Linked DNA regions of Homo sapiens: region 2 is linked to region 1. A link means that fine-mapping ties the variant in region 1 to the expression of a gene that starts in the linked region. Tissue or cell type: whole blood. Region 1 holds a variant in brackets; the other region holds the start of a gene. All regions are shown on one strand. Distances are between the middles of the regions.

Region 1 (2,685 bases):
GCATTTTGGGAGGCCAAGGTGGGCGGATCACGAGGTCAGGAGATCGAGACCATCCTGGCTAACACGGTGAAACCCCGTCTCTACTAAAAATACAAAAAATTAGCTGGGCAAGGTGGCAGGCGTCTGTAGTCCCACCTACTCGGGAGGCTGAGGCAAGAGAATGGTGTGAACCCCAGGGGGCGGAGCCTGCAGTGAGCCGAGATCGCGCCACTGCACTCCAGCCTGGGTGACAGGAGACACCATCTCAAAAAAAAAAAAGAGTGCAAGGTAGAGGGGGCTGCTGTGCAAAAGTCCTGGGGTGGGAGCAGAGGCCACCATGGCTCAGGAAGAGGGAATGAGGGCAAGAGTGGAATGAGACGAGATCAGAAAGGAAACAGAGTCATCATTTAAGGGCCCATAGGCCTTAATAGGGAGTTGGATTTGACTCTGAATGATGCAGGGAGCCATTGGAGAATTACGTGACCTGGCTTACTTTAAAAGGATCACACGGGCTGCTGCGAGGAAAAAACAATTGACAGAGGTAAGGCAGGAAACTGGGAGACATGAATAAGCAATTGTAGCCTTCCAGGTGTGAGACAACGGTGGGCTAGGCCATGTGGGGGAAGTGGATGGGGTGAGACATCGCTGGAGCCCAGTTGAATCAATGCCCCTAATGGAAGTTCCCAGAGCACCTCCTTCTTCTATGGTGGTTGTAATGGGACATTTATTGGTGCACATTTGATTAATGTCTGTCTCCCCCTACTGGGCTATAAGCCTCAAGAAGGCAAGAAATGGGTCTTCTTTGCTCACCATTGCATTTCCAACATCCAGTGCCCACAATATATGCTCTATATAGTTTTCTTGAATGAATGAATGAATGAATGAACAAATACCCCAAAAACAAAAGCACAAACACACAATCCTTTAAGTCTACTTGGGAAGCCCAGCCTTCCCTGCTCTCTTGAGGCTCTGCAAGAAGCAGTCATGCAACATCCACTCCATGCCCAGCACCTTCCAGGCACAATATTAAAGAAGTGCAGGGGCCAGGTGCAGTGGCTCACCCCTGTAATCCCAGCACTTTGGGAGGCCGAGGTGGGTGGATCACAAGGTCGGGAGTTTGAGACCAGCCTGGCCAATATGTGAAACCCTGTCTCTACTAAAAATACAAAAATTAGCTGGGCATGGTGGCAGGCACCTGTAGTCCCAGCTACTCAGGAGACTGAGGCAGGAGAATCGCGTGAACCTGTGAGGTGGCAGTTGCAGTGAGCCAAGATCACACCACTGCACTCCAGCCTGAGCAACAGAGAGAGACTCTGTCACAAAAGAAAAAGAAAAAGAACAAGAGCAGGGCAGTGTGACATTTGCTACCCAGGTTCAGGTCCAGGGTCTGCCAGCCATGGCCAGAGACATAATAATTGCTAAGAATTACTGAGTTTACTTTGTTTCAGAGACCACTTTAGATGCTTTCTGTTATTACTTTGCTTAAATCCCGTGCAAGTCAAACAAAGTAGGTATTATTATTATTATCCAGATGCATAAACTGTATGGCACAATCACACATCCCTGGGTCCTCCCAGGAGGGCCACCACACTCTGAAACTCCAGTCTTTTCTATTTTTCAGAGACGGAGTCTCACTCTGTCGCCCAGGCTGGAGTGC[A/G]GTGGTGCAATCTCAGCTCACTGCGATCTTCACCTCCCAGGTTCAAGCGATTCTCCTGCCTCAGCCTCCCAAGTAGCTGGGATTACAGGTGCCCACAACCATGCCCAGTTGATGTGTGTGTGTGTGTGTGTGTGTGTGTGTGTGTGTGTTTAGTAGAGATGGAGTTTTGCCATGTTGGCCAAGCTGATCTCGAATTCCTGACCTCAGGTGATCAGCCTGCCTTGGCCTCCCAAAGTGCTGGGGTTACAGGCATGAGCCACCGCACCTGGCCTGAAACTCCTTTCCAAACCTAAGTTTAGATTTCCAATGCCACTGAAATCTCACCTAAATTCAGGGCAATCAGAGGGAGAAGCTTCTACACACCCCAAATCTCAGGCTGTCTCTCCATCTCCTTCCCTTGGTCAAGTGGCAACCTCCCAAGGACGGCCACAAGGCACCCAGAGCCCAGCTGCAGAGTCCACTGGCTCTGTGGGAGTCCTGGAGATAAAGGACACCACCGTCCCCTCTCAGATGCCCCAAGCTAAATGGACCCAGCAAAGCCTGGCCCAGCAGCTCCAACTGCTGTCTGTGGGGAAGCTGGCTGAAAGAGCTCCGGGGCAGGCTCCGTGTCTTATCTGTCCTGCAAATCCAGAGCTGTGGGTGCCAGGAGCCAAAGCCTCATTTCTGAGCCTGGTTTGTGTCCTAGCTTAGCCCAGATCCTAAAAGTCAGGAGATGAAGGAATGGCCATCATTCTTCTTGACTCAACTGCATGTTTGAGAACTAAGATGCCAGGACTCACAGTGACAGGAGAGGCAGTGCAGTCCCCCAGTGCATAGCAGCTGCACCCTGAGGCTGGTGTGTCTGAGCAAAGCCAATGCAGAGCTGCGGGCCCTACAGATCCCATGGGGAAGGAGGGAGAGGGGAGGGCAGGGGAGGGTAGCAGCTGAGGAGGGTTCTCACTGCCTCGCCTGAAGCTGAAACCTAGCATCCAGTGGGTGATAGTGCCTGGCACGTTGCATTTCCCAGGGATGGAAAAATGTACTTTTGTCCCCTCCAATCAGTTGGAGGT
Region 2 (2,685 bases), 24 kb before region 1:
CCAGTTAAGATTTTCAGAGGGACCTGCGCAGGTCACATTGCGAGTCTGAGGATGGGGAATGAGATAGGGGTGGAAAGAGAGATGGAAAGGGCAAAGAAAAAGGAAGCAAATTCAAATACAAAATGAGCAAACATTGGTTGAGTGCAGTGGCTCATGCCTGTAATCCCAGTGCTTTGGGAGGTCAAGAGAGGAGGATTGCTTGAGCCCACGAGTTTGGGTCCATGTCACCTACCTGGTCTTCTTCCTTTAAATCGCTGTCATTTTCACTCACCCTTCTAGAAAGAATCTTGTCATTACATTGGGCAATTTCTATGTTTTGTGAGGGAACTCAACCATAAAATTCATTCTGCAAACATGAAGAATGTCCTCTAATTTTTAGCCTAAATTTATTTCCCCAGAGACAAATGTGTTTTCCTGCAGTTTTGTATTTTGAATGTCTATTAATAAGAGTTTCTCTTCTGAAGTCCAACCTTTGCAGGACAGTTTCATTTACTTGTTTACACCACACCTTGTTCCGGGAAGGATTTAAGGTAGATGTTGAGGATGGCATTTTTTTTTTTCAGACAGGATCTCAACTCTATCACCCAGGCCAGACTGCTGCAGTGGTGCAATCTCGGCTCACTGCAACCTCCGCCTCCCAAGTTCAAGCGATCCTCCTGCCTCAGCCTCCCTAGTAGCTGGGACTACAGGCATGCATCACCACGCCCAGCTAATTTTTGTATTTTTAGTAGAGACAGGGTTTCACCATGTTGGCCAGGCTGGTCTCAAACTCCTGACCTCAGGTGATCCACCCACCTTGGCCTCCCAAAGTGATGGGATTACAGGCGTGAGCCACCACGCCCAGCCCATTAATTATTTCTCACAAACCATTCCAACCCCTTTACACTAAGCTTCGTCAAAACAGAACTATTGTTAATTCTTGAACTCTCCATGGTCTTTAATGTCCTCACACTTGCACATAAGCTATTCCTTTCCCACTCAGCCAACTCATTCATCCTGCAGGATGGACTTCCAATGAAGCCTCAGTGACATCTCCCACCCTTCCAAGAGCAAAGTGAGGGGTTCCTGTTGCATACTCTCATCACCACATGAATGAGTCTCTACAACAGTAATTTCCACATTGTATTGTAGTTAGTTGACTCCCTCAGTTCAGAAGTTACTCTTAATTACAGCACCCAGAACAGTCCTGGCACATATCTGGTGCTCAGTAAGTGTTTGTAGGATCCGTGGATGAATGATTGAATGTATAGAAGGATGCACAGGTGAATGAACGGATGTATCTTTCCCTTTTCTGTGGACACTTCACCTCTGGTTTGAACCCAGGACAGCTCTTCTACCTACTGTCCTGCCCCCTGCAAAACCAAGTCCCCAAAGCCACAGCCCCACTCACCTGAGAGGCAGAGAAGGAGTAGAGCTGGGAGCAGCCACATGTTCCTGTCTCCTTGGCTTCCGTCCTCAGCAAATCTAGGTCCCAGCTGGAATCCAAGTATATGTAACGGAGCCTGGGTCATCCACTTTCTACTTGTCCAAGTTTCCTTTGTGTTCTCACTCATCTATTTCCTCTTTTGCCTTTTAAAGAATGCTTCCTAATTTTAAGCCTTACTTAGCAGAAGAGAAAGGGTGGCAAGAGACGTTTCTGAGAATGGACCAAGCACAAACAGGAAAATCTGTTGGCCTTCATTTAATGTGAACGTAATGTTTGAGTCACCCCCTGAGATTTCATGACTCGGAATTTCATGAAAGTCAGTCCCAGTTTACGAAACCTCTCCAACAGAGAAAACTCTGTTCCCTGCCTCTTTCACTCTTCTTCCTATCTGGGATTACTTCATCGATCTAAGGAGCTTCCCTTCTCTATGGCTGCCTACTTTTGAATCATAAAACACCCTCTACTTAAGGAGCTGTGGTGATCACTCCCCATGTCTTTCTCAACCGTTATCTCCATGCGGATGACTTCACACCTCTTCCTCTAACCCAATATCCCAATATCTCTCCTGGGCTCCAGATCCTACTTTCTAACTTCCTATAGGGAAGCTCCACCTGGTTATACACTGTTAACCTAGTTCAGTATATGGGTCATGGTCAACAGCATAGATTCTGAAGTCACACAAACTCAAATCTCATCTCCATCATTTATTAATCATCTGACCTTGGGCATGTTGCCAAATCACTCTCCTCCTCAGTCTCCTCATCTGTAAAATAGAGTACTCATGACAATTCTTTCTCAAAGGGTTGCCACAGGAAATAAATGAGTTAATGTAAGTAAAGTGCTTGATACAGTGCCTGGAACATAGTAACTGCCCAGTTAATATTAAATACCTTTAGAATAGTCCTGGACCATTGAAATAGCTTCTCATCTGGTCCCTCCACTAGCTATACATTCTCTCTAATCCAACTTGCACATCAGAAGATACTCTTCTCTAAGACATAGCTATCTGAAAATATAATTTCTTTCCTTCTCTTTCCCCAGAGATACCCATCTTTGATACCCACAGCCTCTAATCTTTACTATCTTTTAGAACTCTACTGGATCATCTGATATTTCAAACTTTTGTTGTAAGAGCACAACTTCTTATCTTTTCTGTACCACCATATCTGATGAAGTATTATATAGCCAGGCATGGTGGCACGTGCCTGTAATCCCAGCTACTTGGGAGGCCAAGGCAGGAGAATCACTTGAACCCAGGA

What was found. PIP is the estimated chance that this variant, and not a neighbour inherited with it, causes the effect.
Region 2: it holds the start of CD300E, and the variant in region 1 is fine-mapped to the expression of CD300E in whole blood (TOPMed, PIP above 0.99).

Annotation. Positions count from the first base shown.
Region 1 is chr17:74,645,741-74,648,425 of GRCh38, forward strand. No RefSeq gene overlaps it. Among named protein-coding and RNA genes, the nearest start is that of CD300E, 23 kb to the left of the region's middle. The variant A/G (reference allele first, on the strand shown) is at 1,637.
Region 2 is chr17:74,622,192-74,624,876 of GRCh38, forward strand. CD300E (CD300e molecule) reads right to left here and starts at 1,547. Exons shown (of 4, transcript NM_181449.3): 1 at 1,391-1,547. The coding sequence starts at 1,430. All of the region lies in intron 3 of LOC101928343 (a long non-coding RNA gene), which reads left to right.